Linked DNA regions of Homo sapiens. The protein of the gene in region 1 interacts with the protein of each later gene in a biochemical or structural test. Each region holds a gene or a part of one and is shown on either strand. Other genes may lie near its edges.

Region 1 (8,478 bases):
ATGGTTTACAAGACTCTGCATGATCCACCCTCTCTAACTCTTGACCATACACGTCTTATCACTCTCCATCTGTTTCACACCTCTCCAGCCACCTCTGAAGTCACCATTTCTAGAATCATATCAATAATGCTACCACTTCAGGGCCTTTGCGCTTGCTGTTCCCTCTGCCTTAAAGGCTAGTCTCTGAGGCCTGCAAGTTTATGTCCCACATCATTAACATATAAAACACCATAAAGGCAACCAACAGAGCATTCTAATTGCTTTCTATGGACAAAAGTGCTCACACTCAGCACTTTCCTTTCCACAAGTTGGTACAGATGACAGACTGGGTGAGGCACTTCAGTTCCAACTGTGACTTAGGCTTATTTTTTTAAACCACAATTGCATCAAGTCCTCTGTGAACACCAAGTCAGGGAAATCTGGGTGCGGTACTCCCCCAACAGGGCACTATAACTACCTGGACAAAAAAGAACCTTTCTGATGGCTCAGGCCCGCTGGTCTGTGCCCTAGTCTTTCCACACCTCTGAAAAAATGAGTAAATTTCCTAGATGCAGGGTCACTTTGCTGTCCACAGGAAATTATATCTTTTTTCTCCTTTTATAACCAAAGTCCTTAGTTCAGCTTGAGAAAACCTAGCTATCACAGGGTGGCCGTGAATGGACAATAACAGAGAAAGCTGGGACATGGCATTCAGGTGGATTCCTTTCCAGAAAAAGAAGTCATCCATTTACCGAGATGACTCTCTCTAGGAACCCATGTCTCAGGGCTGCTGTGCATGGTTGTTCTGGTTCACACTATCAACAGCAGGGACATTATTCACACGGCGTTGTGTGGTGCAGCTTTTCTACTACTCAGCTTTTAGGGTTCCGAGATTAAAGACACTCTTGCTTCAGAGGGATGAAGACAAATGCATCTGATGTAAGAATTAATGTCGGCAAGGCAAGGAAGGAGGGAAATGAAGGGAGATTTGGAAATGAAGGGAGAAGTGTCCTGAAGGAGAGGGTGCACTTTGGATGTAATCTTTGGCCTCATTTCCTCTCACCTTGCACTCGAAAACCCCCACCCCTGTCCTCATGAGCTGGCTACTTTCCAACAAAAACCAAAGAGCCACAGGGGCATGGGGCTACTTCAAAACCCTTGTGTCCTAGTTTAAGAAAGCAGAGCACTGCTATCAGGAACTCAGAGCAGCAAGGTCGACTCCTATCTCTAGCTATTCCTCCGCCAAGGAATCAGATTTCCTCTTGTAAGAAGCCTACTTAGTGACTCTTTCTCAGGGGTTGCCTGGTGTAGGGGCTGAAGAGAATCTGAGAACACAGGATCCAGCTCCCGGATTAAAAGGAGTAGAAGCAGAAAACTGGCCAAAAAGATGTGATTCAGAGATAGGCCTCATCCATCTTCTCTTGTAAAGCCAAAGACAACTGCTTATGTGGGATAACAAGGAGAACTCGTGGTCTGGTCACAGGCAAGGAAGTGAGATGTTTCAATACTAATACTTGCTTTGGGCAAAGCATGCAAAATAATTGTCTTGCTTCTGCTGCTTAAGGACGAACTTCCCCGACTTAAGACATCTTCCTGGGACTCCAGCTTGTGAGATAAGGGACTGTGGTTTATTCAGCACATCACATCCAGCAATGAGATGCACATAGGCTGGACATTAAACCTCCCTGGAAACCACTGGGATCAGTATTTCTCTACCCAATTATCCACTTTGAAGTAATATATCAATGATCATTCAATAAACTTAGTTAATATAACCACCGGCAATGGAAAACAATATTTTTTTCTTTTTCAATAGGAAAAAAAAGCCTCTGGTAGGGAAAATCTGATATAAACTTTAAAATTTTAGCAGATGACTTCACCCCACACGACCATCTTGAATATATCAAGGATATGCTATTTAAGTCTGGCTCAGTGTGACACTCTTTATAAATCAAATAATTCTTTAATTTATCTTTTGGATAAATGGATTTTTATATAATAAATTGTTTTCAATTCGTACATCATAATTTGCAAGGCAATAGCTCATTTCCAATATTTATACATAGCAATATCAAGAGAAAGGCCATTTTCTCATCCCATTTTTAACAATCCAACCACAATATGCTGTTTTGGTAAGTACTTAGGTTGGGAGAATATTCGAGAAAACTATTTCTCCAGGTGAGAAACATCTCAAGCAAACATTGGAAGGAATGCATTTTCCAGTAGCCAGTAACGGATGAGACGACCTGGGAGACCCAGGGACCTCAGGAAAAGCAAATGGCTCCACTAAAACTCCCTCCTCCAACCTTAATTGGTCAAATGCCAAAATAAATGAACTTTCCAAAGTTAAGAGCTTTGCAACTTTCACTAGGAGTAACTACAGGTGCACAAGCCAGGACCGACGAGTCTACGAACCCCATCGTGGCCGGCGGTAGTCGCTGGTCGAGCCTAGCGCCCAGGCCCAGGCCACCTCCATGCCGTGCGACCCGCCGGGAACGGGTTCAGGCCCGTCTGCCCAAGGCCAGAAGCACCCTGTCCCCGGCCCAACGCCGGATCGCGTCCCGCCCTTCTCACCCCATACCAAGGAAAGGAACTAGACGCTTGGGAGAAAGGATGAGCAGCACCCGGTGGGATTCGGCCCCAACCCGGGGCCGTCCCCAACTCCCAACTTCCCAGAGTTTCCTTCGGCCTCGTCCCCCTTCCCACGGCTCCGAGGCCGCCGCGGCCTCCCCTCGCTCTGAGTGCAGATAGCCCGGGAAGTGGAGAGCGTAGCTCGGAGCTAGGGAGCCGCCCCCAGGAGCCTTGGCGATGGGAGCGCAGGTGGCGGGCGTGGTCCCTCCAACCCTGCCCTAGCCGACCCGGAGTCGGCCTCCGTGCAGTAGCCACCGCCCGGGTCCCCGCCTGGTTACAGCATCAGGCCACAGTGCGCTGGTTCTTGATCACTCTCCTGGCTCGGTGGCCGCCCCCCGCCCTCTCCCAGTCCGCGTCGCTGTTCTGCCTCAGGCCCCGGTGCGGCCCCAAGTCCCAGCCCAGGGCCCTTAGGTCCCTCCAGGCGGCGGTGGCGGCACTCACCTGGGTCGCGGAGCCGGGGTCTGGCACGGTCCCGCAGGTGGTAAATGAAATCCTGGCAGCTGTCGTGCTCCAGGGCCCCACGGGCACAGAGCTCGGCCAGCAGCTGCAGCGCCTGGTGACAGAGCGCGTCCCTGGCCCCGGGCATCGCCCCCCCGCATCCTCGGACCGCGCCGGGCAGGCGGGCGCAGGAGACAGCCCTCCGCCTGCCAGCTCAGAGCCGCCGCCTCCGGGCCGTCCGCGCTCACCGCCAGGGACCTGCCGAGAAACGGTGCGAGCCTGAGCCCGAGCCCCAGACCCAGCCGGCCCGGCCTCCCACCGGTTGCATGCAGCTCTTCGCCAGCCGGTCGGTCAGGCTTTCTCTCTCTCCCGCCCGGTCCCTCCGTCCCTCCCCAGACACCGAGGAGAGGCGGTGCCGCACAGCCCAGAGCGCCTCTCTGCTTGCGCTCCGCCCGCTACTCGCGGCCGCCGGGGGGCGGGGCCAGGTCAGGAGTGCGCGCCGCAGGGTAGGATAGCGGCGGCCCCAGACCGGGGACCTGGGGTACTCCCCGGCTCCTGGCCGAGCGCGAGACTTGGCTTGGGACCTCGCGCCCAGAGCGGCCGCGCCCTGGCTTGGGGAGTGTGAGTGAGTGCGCGCTCCGGGCGCTTTCGCTACTCCACCCCTCATCCCTGATGCAAACCAAGCACCCGCTCCCACCGCCGAGTGTGTCCAAAGCACGTTCTTGGATGCCTAGTGCGAAGGTTACAATCTGGGCACACCCGCCAGATGCGCAGAACCGAGTCCCTGCTTCGAACTTGGAAAGAGCCGCCTGGGTTTGAACCATGGGCCTATGGGTGTCAGATGCCCAAATGCAGGGTTTGGGTCCAAGATTCGCCAACAAAGGAAGGATTTCCCAAGCACAGGCCCTTTTCGACCACTGTGGTGATTTGGATGGAGAAGGTGGAGGCTCTAGGTCAGAACTAAGATCAAATAAATAAACGATTCCTGGGAAAGACCCTGAGGCTTACCTGGGCTTCGTGGGTCCCTTAGTTTTCTAAGCAACCGTTTGGAAATCCAAACATTGCCAAAGTGTCTTCAGCACCCAAGGAGGAGTATCACAGAATCTTGGAGAGTTGGAAGGAACCTCAGGGCACCTCTCATCCACCCATCTTTTCAGCCTTTCAAGCAGTAAAGCCTAGAAATAACCACGAAGTACTCTGGGTGTGTGTGTGTGTGTGTGTGTGTGTGTGTGTGTCACTGTGCCACAAGCCTTTTAGGTACATAATCTCATTTAATTCTGTACATAGCCCAACAAGGTCTGTGTAATTGTTATCCTCATTTTACCAATGAGAAACTGGGGCCTGGGGACTCACAAAGGTGTTACTTGCTCAAATTCATACATGATGAAGGTAGCTTTGATTTTCTCTCTTTCTTTTTTCTTTTTTCCTTCTTTTTCTTTTGTCTTTTTTGTAATACTGGTGTTCAGGCCCCCACTCTAGAGCAATTAGAGTAGGATCTCTAGAACTGGTAACTATCATTCTTAGCCATGAGGTTGTGCCGTCTCTACGGACATATCACAACAATTCATATTTGCACAGAAAGATAATTTGGGATCCTATAGAATGCTCACGCAACAGGCAACCTTTGAAATCCTGCTGTGAATGGTACTAGGGTTTCAGGGAACTTACATGGGAATAGCAGAGAAAATGCAAAGTTGTAAAGGTAAAGATGCCTCCAGAGAGTTGCAAAGAGACAAACAGAGGGAGGAGAAACCAGCTTTAAGGGAGCCTGTAGGGGAGGTTGAGCAGATGCTGTTTCTTCAAAGGGGGGAACCCCTAGAGAAGAAGAAAAAGGCCATGAACAGAGAAGGTGACACCAGAGATAGTGTGATGCTGGGGGGGGGTGGCGGGGGGGACATATAGTAATGGTGAGAAGGTATGTGTGTTGAAGCACATGGAAATATTACCCTAATGCCATCATGTCAGAGAGGAACTGAAAGCAACAAGTTCAGTTAAAAAATGACTTTGATAAACCAGGCAAGAGATGATGAAGGCCTAAACCAGGCCAAAGGCATTAGCTGATTGCTAGAAACATCCAAATTTGAAAAACATTTCAAGTATTAAGTGACAAGATTGCAACCAATGGAATAAGAAAGAAGTGAAAGGCACAAACGTTTCAAAACGTTACCTGGGTCATATGTGCTCACACCCTAATAACACTTAGAAATGCAAGCCTAGAGTTTAGGAGAGAGTGAAGACTGGCAATCATCATTGGAAAGGTAGAAACTGAGTTGCCACATGGGATGGTTCCTTCAAGAAAGAAGAGTTGAAGAAATGAAAGAGGAGATTGGAAGGTAGCAATGAGAACAGGAGGAAAGATTGTACAGAGGGGAGTCATAGGGATCACGGGAGGAGGAGTGTTTGGTAGAGGAGCGAGCAACATCAACTGTAAACTTTCAAATATAGTTTAAAGAGAAAAAACTAAAAAGTGTCCTTTGGATAAAGTAGACAGTAAGACATTCAAGATTTAGACAGACTAGTTACTATGCAACCAACCTTGTGCAAGTTAACATTTTTGTGCCTAGGGTTTCTCATCTTATCTCAAAGATAACGTGTATCTTTGGGCTGTTACAAAGATTACATAAAGCAATATATTTAAGTGCTTGTAATAGTGCTGCCACATAGTATGGGCTCAACCAATATGTGTTTTTGCTGTTTCTGTTATGTTTCTACTACAATGTACGAGGTGCTAAACACACTTTCTTAATCTATTACTTACAACATCCCAAAGTGGTTGATGCTATATTTCCTATTTTACAGGCAAAGAAAGTAAAATCAGGTGGTTAAACAATTTGTTCAAGGACAAATTGGTAGACTGTTTCCAAAGACAGCCATAGCTATCCCTCCAATTCCATGTGTCCTTTTGGAGTGTGATTTTACCACTCTTCCCATCAAGAAGTCAAGTCTGTTCCCCTCTGCTTGAATTTGGGCCTGCCTTGTGACTCACTTTATTCAACAGAATGTGTAGAAGTGAAATTCTGAGCTGAGTCTAGACTTGAAAAGATCTTGCAACTTTTACAGGATATCTTGCTGGAGAGGGGTCCAGAAGAATGAGAAACAATGTGGAGAAAGAATATCATACAGAAGGGAAGTGAGATACTGCTATAGAGTGAACTGTAAATTCTTATGTTGAAGCCCTAATTCCCGATGTCACTGTATTTGGAGATAGGACTTAATTAAGAGTAAATGAGGTCATAAAGGTAGAGCCCTGATCCAATAGGATTAGTTTCCTTATAAGAATCATCAAACCAGCTGGCTGTAAGTATTTGGGTTTATTTCTGGGTTCTCTATTCTGTTCCATTGGTCTGTATACCTATTTTTATACAACTACCATGCTGTTTTGGTGACTATGGTCTTATAGTATAGTTTGAAATCAGGTAATGTGATGCCTCCAGATTTGCTCTTTTTGCTTAGTCTTGCTTTGGCTATGTGGGCTCTTTTTTGGTTCCATATGAATTTTAGAATTGTTTTTTGTAATTTTATGAAGAATGATGGTGGTATTTTGATGGGAATTGTGTTGAATTTGTAGATTGCTTTTGGCAGTATAGTCATTTTCACAATATTAATTCTATCCATCTGTGAGCATGGGACATGTTTCCATTTGTTTGTGTCATCTCTGATCTCTTTCAGCAGTGTTTTGCAGTCTTCCTTGTAGAGGTCTTTCACCTCCTTGTTTAGGTATATTCCTAAGTATTTTATTTGGAAAGGACACCCTTTTCAACAAATGGTGCTGCAATAATTGGCTAGCCACATGTAGGAGAATGAAACTGGATCCTCATCTCTCACCTTATACAAAAATCAACTCAAGATGGATTAAGGACTTAAATCTAAGAGCTGAAACTATAAAAATTCTGGAAGATAACATTGTAAAAACTCTTCTAGACATTGGCTTAGGCAAGGATTTCGTGACCAAGAACCCAAAAACAAATGCAATAAAAACAAAGATAGATACATTTCTGGGACTTAATTAAACTAAAGAGCTTTTGCACAGGAAAAAAAAAACAGCAGAGTAAACAGACAACTCACAGAGTGGGAGAAAAATCTTCACAATCTATACATCTGACAAAGGACTAATATCCAGAATCTACAACGAACTCAAACAAATCAACACGAAAAAAACAAACAATCCCATCAAAAAGTGGGATAAGGACATGGATAGACAATTCTCAAAAGAAGATATACAAATGGCCAACAAACATGAAAAAATGGTCAACATACTAATGAACAGGGAAATTGAAATCAAAAGCACAATGCGATACCACCTTACTCCTGCAAGAATGACCATAATCAAAAAATCAAAAAACAGTAGATGTTGGTGTGGATGCAGTGAACAAGGAACAATTCTACATTGCTGATGGGAATGTAAACTGGTACAACCACTATGGAAAACAGTGTGGAGATGCCTTAAAGAACTAAAAGTAGAACTACCATTTGATGCAGCTGTCCCACTACTGGGTATCTACCCAGAGCAAAAGAGGTCATTATACGAAAAAGATACTTGCACATGTATGTATATAGCAGCACAATTCACAATTGCAAAAACACAGAACCGACCCAAATGTCCATCAATCAATGAGTGGATAAAGAAACTGTGATATATATATATATATACACACATATATACGTATATATACATATGTATATATATATATCACGTATATATACACGTATATATACACGTATATATGTATATATACGTATATATACACATATATATGTATATGTGTATATATGTGTATATACATGTATACGTGTATATATATGTATATATGTGTGTATATATGTATATATGTGTATATATATGTGTGTGTATATATATATGTATATATATATGATGGAATACTACTCAGCCATAAAAAGGAATGAATTAACGGCATTCATAGTGACCTGGATGAGACTGGAGGCTATTATTCTAAGTGGAGTAACTCAGGAATGGAAAACCAAACATCTTATGTTCTCACTCACAAGCAGAGCTAAGCTGTGAGGATGCAAAGACATAAGAATGACACAATGGACTTTGGGGACTCAGGGGAAAGGGTGGGAAGGGGGCAGGAGATAAAAGACTTCAAATAGGGTGCAGCGTATAGTGCTTGGGTGATGGATGCACCAATATCTCACAAATCATCTCTAAAGAATTTAATCATGTAACCAAACACCACCTGTTCCCCAATAACCTATAGAAATAAAAAATAATTTTTAAAAAGAGTCATCAAAGAGTTTGCTTTCTCTCTGCCATGTGAGGACACAGTGAGAAGGCAGCTCTCTGCAAGCCAGGAAGAAAGCCCTCACTAGAAATGGAATTGGCTGCAACCTTGAGCTTGGACTTCCCAGACTTCTGACTGTGAGAAAATAAATTTCTATTGTTTAAGCCACCCAGTATATGCTATTTTG
Region 2 (7,539 bases), on another chromosome or scaffold:
TTTGGTGTTTTTAGTAGAGACGGGGTTTCACCATGTTGGTCAGGCTGGTCTCAAACTCCAGACCTCAGGTGATCTGCCCACCTCAGCCTCCCAAAGTGCTGGGATTACAGGCATGAGCCACCATGCCCGGCCCCTGCATGCTTTCTAACCGAGTACACCCCGTCTACAATCAGGGACCTGAGTCACCACACACTCAGCCCCACAGGACCTCAAGGTTAAAGGAGAGGAACTGAGAAGCGGGAAGGGGGCGGGTCTCCTGTACAGCCTGAGGCAGGGGAGATGGGCGCAGGGATACGAGGTTCTCCACGTTCTCCATCCATCGCTCCCGCAAGCTGGGAAGGAGTCCAGGGCAGAGCCTGGGCCTGGGGTCGGGGAGGTCTCCCGAAATGTCCACACCCCTTCCCCACCACCCACACCCTCGCCCACGAGGCCTGAGCCTCTGGCCGCACCAAGCCATCCACGGGCCTGTAGTAGGCAGCCATGGTGAAGATGATCATGTACAGGCAGTAGACCAGGAAGTTGAAGTAGAAGATGCGCTTGACGAATCTGTCCCACTTGTCCTGCAGGAGTCGGTTCAGCGGCTCCACCAAGAGCATGTCGTGGCGATTCTAGGGGGTGGGGAGAGAAGTGAGGTTCCCTCCTGCAGCAGGAACTCCTCGCACGCCCACACCAGCCCGTGGTGCCCCTCACAGCCATGTGGCCCGCACAGTCCTCAGCCCACGGAGCAGGTGAGATGGGAGGTCTGAGCCAGCCGGCAGCCATAGCCTGGGGCTGGTCCCAGCACTGCCGCGGCTCACGGAGGGACCTGCCCTCTTGGCCTCAGTGTCCCCAGAGGTGCAGTGAATGGGGTGAAACTGGACAAGCTCTTAAGTGCTCACTTAATGGCCCACCGCACTGCCCGTTGTGTCTAATAACTCCCTCCCGAGAGCCCACAGTAATGGGAAGTAGTTGGCTTAGGCAGAGCCTGGGCATGAGGGGCTCAGGGCAGGCAGGAAAGAGCCTCTGGGTCCTCACTTCTCACGTTTCCAGCCCTGGGTCAGGCAGGGCGGCAGGGAGGCAGGGAACTAGGAGGCCCTTCCTGCCCCAGGAGGGCCCAGTGCCTCATGCCATCATTACAAGTATGCTTTGGGGCAAATGTCTCATATCCAGAGACTTTGATAAAGTTCAAATAGGCCGGGTGTAGTGGCTCACGCCTGTAATCCCAGCACTCTGGGAGGCCGAGGCAGGTGGATCACTTGAAGTCTGGAGTTCAAGACCAGCTTGGCCAACGTGGTGAAACTCCTTCTCTACAAAAATACAAAAATTAGCCAGGCATGGTGGTGGGTGCCTGTAATCCCAGCTACTTGGGAGGCTGAGGTGGGAGAACTGCTTGAACCCCAGGAAGCAGAAGTTGCAGTGAGCTGAGATCACGCCATTGCACTCCAACCTGGGTGACAGAGCAAGACTCTGTCTCAAAATATAAAATAAAATAAAATAAAAATAAGTTCAAGTATCCCTGAGACTGATGAGCCAAAATCAGATCATCCCAGCCTCCCTCAGGCCATCGAGTCCAACCCCCACCCCAAACTTAAGCTCCCTCAAAGAGGTTCCTGATCAGTGTCTTCTTGAATGCCTTTGGGAATGGGAAACTCCTTACTGCCTCAAGAGGCCTATGGAGACTCACTGCCTGTAGGGAATACCTCTTCTTTGGTCTTCTCTACTTTCCACTAGTGGTCCTGGCTCTGCCCTAGGGTCCCCAGGACAAGTCCACACTCCTTGTCCCTGAGAGCCTTTAGAGACATGAAGATGTCAGTGGTGGTCCCAGAGCCTCTCCCCCAGGTCAAATACTGCAGTCCTTGTTGAGGCCACCTCCTATCTGGACCTCTCCTCTGGGAACACTTGTATCCAGCACTCTGAGTTGGAGGCCCAGGTTCAGCATGGCAGCCCAGGGGAGGCAGAGCAGACCAGGCCTTTCCCAGCCCCGGACTCTGCTCCTGTAAACGCAACCTCTGACCTGTGAGATGTCGTGGAAGCCCCTCACTGCTGATGGCACAGACTCTAGCCCCCAAGTCTGCCTTAGGAGCTCAGAGCATCACCTTAGAAAGAAGGGACAGATAAGGTGGCCTTTCCAAACAGCGTGGCAGGATGGATTACTCACTACGTAACACTAAGACATTCATTTGGAGCCAAAATATTTAAGTAAGATGCCTACTTCACACCTACACAAAAATAAGTTCTTGGCCTGGCGCAGTGGTTCACACCTGTGATCCCAGCACTTTGGGAAGCCAAGGAGGGCGGATCACCTGAGGTCAAGAGTTCGAGACCACCCTGACCAACATGGAGAAATCCTGTCTCTATTAAATACAAAAAATTAGCAGGGCCTGGTGGCGCATGCCTGTAATCCCAGCTACTTCGGATTCGAGGAGAATCGCTTGAACCCGGGAGATAGAGGTTGCAGTGAGCCGGGATGGCACCATTTCACTCCAGCCTGGGTAACAAGAGCAAAACTTCGTCTCAAAAAAAAAAAGAAAAATCTACACGCCCTGCCATCAAGTGAAAAAAAAAAAAGGTTGTTGTACATTGTGTATAGTCTGATCTCATTTATGTAAACAAAATGAAACTGTGCATTTTTAAATAGTATAAAAGGAGGGTCCTTTTGTCCATGTCCCTCTGAAACGTTTCTGTTTTTATGGGATGATAATCACGTATGGTTGCTATGCTTAGGGAAAATTCAGTGGGCATGAGTGGGGAACGTGAGGCTGCAGGGCCTGGGCCCGGGCGCAGCAGGCTTTCCCTCCTGAGAAGCCAGCTGGAGCTGGACCAGGGGCTGGGATTGGGGCTTGGGTGCAGAGGCCCTGAGGCCCTCCCTGGCTGTGCCCCAGCCACTCACAGGGGTCTCGCTGCTGCTGTAGGCGATCACCTCCAGCACCGAGTTCTTCTCGCAGGTGTCGATGCAGGACAGGTCGTACAGCGAGGAGTGCACGGGCCCGTAGGCCCACTCGGTGAACTTCCTGGACAGGTGCCTGCACTCGGGCTCCTGGATCTCCCGCTGGAGAATATAGGCCAAGACCTGCCCCCGGGGAGCAAGAGCCCGTCAGAGGCCAGCCCCAGGCTCAGCCTCAGACAGTACCTCAACAACCAGCTCTGCTTCCCAGCCCAGCTGGTGGCCCCACCTAAGCCCCAGGCGAGTCCCCACCCACTCCTGACCACCACTGAGATCAACCAGCCGGCCGGGCACGGGTGGCTCATGCCTGTAATCCCAGCACTTTGGGAGGCTGAGGCGGGTGGATCACCTGAGGTCAGGATTTTGAGACCAGCCTGGCCAACATGGCAAAATCCTGTTTTTACTGAAAATACAAAAAAAAAATTAGCCGGGCATGGTGGCGTGTTCCTGTAATCCCGGCTACTTGAGAGGCCGAGACAGGAGAATCACTTGAACCTGATAGGCAGAGGTTGCAGTGAGCCGAGATTGTGCCACTGCTCTCCAGCCTGGGCAACAAGAGCGAAACCTCATCTAAAAAAAAAAAAAAAAACAAAACACACAAACGTCAACCAGCCAGCTGCCTCAGATACTACCTGCACCATATCAGGCCCACAATCCCCTCACGGCGAGGCCCCAGCTCTACCATCTCACCATGAAGGACAGCGGTGGTCCATTCTCGATAACCTCAAGCCAGAAAGAAAGAAAGAGAATGCAAGAAATGAGAGCCAGATGGGGTGGCTCATGCCTGTAATCCCAGCTACTTGGGAGGCTGAGGTGGAAGGATCACTTGAGGCCAAGAGCTGGAGGCCTGTCACCAGGAGCCACCAGCTGGAGCTGGGAGCTGGAGCCATCAGCCTTGTTACCTAAAGCTCCTGCCTGCCATGCTCCTGCCTGCCATGGAAAAACACCAACAGCTTTTTTCTTTTTCCTTTTTTTTTTTTTTTGAGACAGAGTCTTGCTCTGTCACACAGGCTAGAGTGCGGTGGCAAAATCTTGGCTCACTGCCACCTCCGCCTCCCAAGTTCAAGTGATGTTTGTGCCTCAGCCTCCTGAGTAGCTGGAATTGTAGGCACCTGCCACCATGCCTGGCTAATTTTTGTATATTTAGTAGAGGTTTCACCAGGTTGGTCAGGCTGGTCTCGAACTCCTAACCTCAGGTGATCCACCCACGTCGGCCTCCCAAAATGCTGGGATTACAAGAGTGAGTCACCGTGCCCAGCCCAACAGCTATTCTTCTGTTCCACCCTAGGCAGTCCCTCCTCCATTGCCCAGCACCCTACCCCACCCCATGTCTTGTTGCTGATACTCAGAGCTGGAAATTCAAAATGGCACGTTGGCCATTGCAGGGTTCTGCCCTGTGGCTCCCAATTTCTCAGACTTATTCTAACAGCCCTACAGGCTGGTATGACAGAATCAGAGTCCCGCACACACAGATAGCGACGCCAGGCTCCCGCAGTGAGTCAGGCAGTCCTCTCCCATGCCATCAGCCCCGCACCGCACCAGCCTGAGCCGAAGCCCCCTCTTACCCCGATCTTCCCGGTCCCAGCTGCCAGAGCCAGCGGCGTCATTCCCTTCTTGTTGGTGAGCTCCTCCAGCTTCAGCGTCGGGTGCAGTTTGGCCCCCAGCATCAGAATCTCATTGTACATGCTCGTCACAAACTTCGTGTTGTCGGCCGTGTTGTCGGCCACCTCCACCAGGGCGTGCAGCACCGTGTTGCCCACCGAGTCCCTGGCGCTGATGTCGGCCGTCTGCCAGGAGTTCTGCAGCAGGAACTTCACGATGCCCAGCTGGTTGGTGCACGCGGCCAGGGACAGGGGCAGTTCACCTGCATGAACACAGGGCCCAGGTGGGCCTCAGGAGTGAGATCCAGCTGGCCCCTGAACCACCGGCCTCCAAACTCCCTCTGTCTCTGCCCAAACCTCCCCTTAGCAAAAGCCAAAAAGATCAGGGTCTGCCACACTGTCTCCCTACCGAAGTAGAATCCAGGCCGCCCTTTGGTTTTCTTAAAGAAGTCCCCATGGGCCGCAGCCTGGACGTCTGCTCCGTTCTCCACCAGGAGGGTCACCAGGGCCATGTTGCGTCTCTCGATGGCGATGTGCAGTGCTGTCTGGCCTACAGAGGACGCGCACGGTTGGCTTCGTGGTCACGGTCCTGTGGGGCTGCCGGGACAGGTGCTGGGGAAGGGCTCTGGGCAGGCAGCAGCTGCTGCAGGAGGAACTGGGCAGAAAGTGCCTGGAGGACCCCCCCACTGCAGGAGGCCAGGCCAGGGTCCCCCAAGGGGTCCCAGCAAGGTCCTGAGACAGGAGACCCCTGGGAACAGGAAATAACGGGTTGGAAGCCAGAGGAGTCAAAATTGCCCCGGGGGCAAGGAACAGCAGCAGAGAGAAAGGCCAGAGGCTGTGACTTCCAGGGACAGGGACCATCCAGTCAGCAGGGGGAGGCAGGGACTTCTCAGGGTCAAGAGAGGAGACATCAGATCGGGGAGGCAGAGACCCCCAGGACCAGGAGAAATCAAGCCAGCAGATGGGAGAGGCAGGGACCCCCTAGGATTAGGAGCCACCAACGCAGTGGCTGGGACAGGGAGTAAGGATCCCAGAGAAGCAAGGAGGCCCAGGGACAACCATGCCCCCCTGCTTCCCGGTGCTGCGGGCTGAGCCATGCCCGGCCCCGCCGCCCTCCTCACCCTTGTAGTAGCTGTCCGTGTAGCTGGCGTTGACAAGCTCCTTCAGGCTGTCCGTTTGCCGCGCGATCTCCAGGAGCAGGGGGATGGTGGTGTTCTGTCCGTCGTGCAGGTTGAGCATGGCTTTCAGCAGACAGGTCTTCCCTGTCTCAGGGTCTGAAAGACATAAGGGAGGGTCAGGGCAGGCCAGGGCTGGGGCCCTCCCCGAGCCCAGCGCTGGGGCCACCTTTGAACTCGTTGTCTGTGAGGTGCTTCTTGCTCTTCTGCAGGAAGAGCAGCAGGCTCTCCAGATCCTGGCAGTTATTCTGAGCAACGGCTTCAAAGATACTCCTGCGATCATAGAGCCTGAGGGTCTTCTCGGTGCTGGCGGCGACAGAGTCCTGGGACAGCAGCCTGTGGGCCAGAAAACACGCTCGTCTCATACCCTGGCCTCCCCTCGGCCCTGAGGCCTTCGGAGCTTGTCAAGGGAACACGACTAAATCCCAAGGCAAACCAAAAAGGGGAAAAATGATATAAAAGCTGCCCCTCAGTCTAGGTGACTGTCCAGAAAAGCAATGTAACAGGGACAGTGGAGGGCATGTGTCCCCATTCTGTCCCCACCCTGTCTATAGACACCATCTAGAAAGTCACCCTCCTACTCCCAGACCACTGGCTTCTCTGCCTGCTCGGGAGCTCGGGAGGCAGGAGCCTGGTGGGGACGGAGGGAGGTGGAGGCAGGGGTGTAGACAGCCCCTCTAAGGGAAAAGGTGGCCTCACACTCCCCAGAAGTCAGCCAGCCTGTGGCCCTCCCTGCCCTGCCTTGCAGCTCACTGGAGCTGTGCTGTGCTCTCCAAAAGCCTCCTGCCCTTGAGCTTTTAGACTTCAAGTCCAAGTGTCTGTGGCTGGTAGGCATTGCGGGCGTGGACACCTAGACCCAGCACAGACACCAGCCCCCGTGACTGCACATCCCACGAGGTCACATGAGGAAGGACGCTGGACCAGACCACCCCTAAGGCTCTCCAGCCCCCTGGCTTTGTGACATTTAGCCCAGAAGCCAGACCACCCTGTGGCATCTCCATGGCCAGCTGGGCTCCCAGCAGGGAGGGGGGCTCCAGACGCGGACTTACCTGGCACCGGTGGGGCCGTCTCCTGGCCTCTGGATGGTGATAACAGGGCTGACTGTGATGGTCGGGCAGGAGTCCAGCTCACCTTCCTCGTGAGGGCAATCCACCGGGAAAGCCTCCTCCGAGTCACCCTTCCCAAAGAGCCGGGTGCGGCTCTTGGCCGTGGAGAGCTGGGGCTTGGCTGGAGGTGGCCTGGAGTTAGGGTCTCCATCCAGGGGGTCTGGGCAGGTGTCCTTTTGGAGTGGGTCCGCAGCTGCCCCCAAGTCTGTGCTGCTCCATTTCTTCATCCTTGCTGGATCCTCTGTGGCCCAGTGTGCAACCTGCAGCAGCCACCACGCCGGGGTTGACTCCCAAAGTAAGGACTGCTTGTCCTTAGACCCCACCTGCCCTCCTTGCCAAGGGCCCTGTGAAGCAGGGTACCCCAAAACTCCAACTTGCTGCTGCCCCCAGCCCCCTAGAACTGAAGTGTTTCCAGGACTGAACCTCTCACCCCAGAGGCCTCAGAGGTGAGCAGGCCTAGCAGGGCCCAGGCAGTCCTGCGGCCACTGACGTCGGCCTGGGAGGGTGGACAGGCCCCCGGCTCAGAGCCATCTGTGGTTCTGGGTTAGACCCATCCCTCCTCGTCTCTGGGCCTCAGGTGCCTCCTCTGCAGGGTGAGGTTGATAACCACCGCGCTGCCTCCCTCCCCACACAGAACAAGGAAAACGGCCGGGGTGGCTGTCGTGGGCTGAATTCAGGGAGGATCTCGGTGATGAGGATGGCTCAGTCCAGAAGAGCCAAGCAGACTGTGTCCC

Evidence for each region.
Region 2: the proteins of SYT9 (region 1) and TRPV1 form a complex in vitro, tested with the Homo sapiens proteins (one study listed by BioGRID).

What each region holds. Positions count from the first base shown.
Region 1 is NC_000011.10:7,246,905-7,255,382, reverse strand, and holds the start of SYT9 (synaptotagmin-9), read right to left. Parts: upstream 3,480-8,478; 5' UTR 3,197-3,479; coding exon 3,052-3,196; intron 1-3,051. UniProt on the Homo sapiens protein: May be involved in Ca(2+)-dependent exocytosis of secretory vesicles through Ca(2+) and phospholipid binding to the C2 domain or may serve as Ca(2+) sensors in the process of vesicular trafficking and exocytosis.
Region 2 is NC_000017.11:3,585,319-3,592,857, forward strand, and holds part of TRPV1 (transient receptor potential cation channel subfamily V member 1), read right to left. Parts: exon of another isoform or gene 7,066-7,539; 5' UTR 7,033-7,065; coding exon 6,749-7,032; intron 6,036-6,748; coding exon 5,869-6,035; intron 5,799-5,868; coding exon 5,646-5,798; intron 5,075-5,645; coding exon 4,934-5,074; intron 4,788-4,933; coding exon 4,489-4,787; intron 3,050-4,488; coding exon 2,870-3,049; intron 609-2,869; coding exon 450-608; intron 1-449.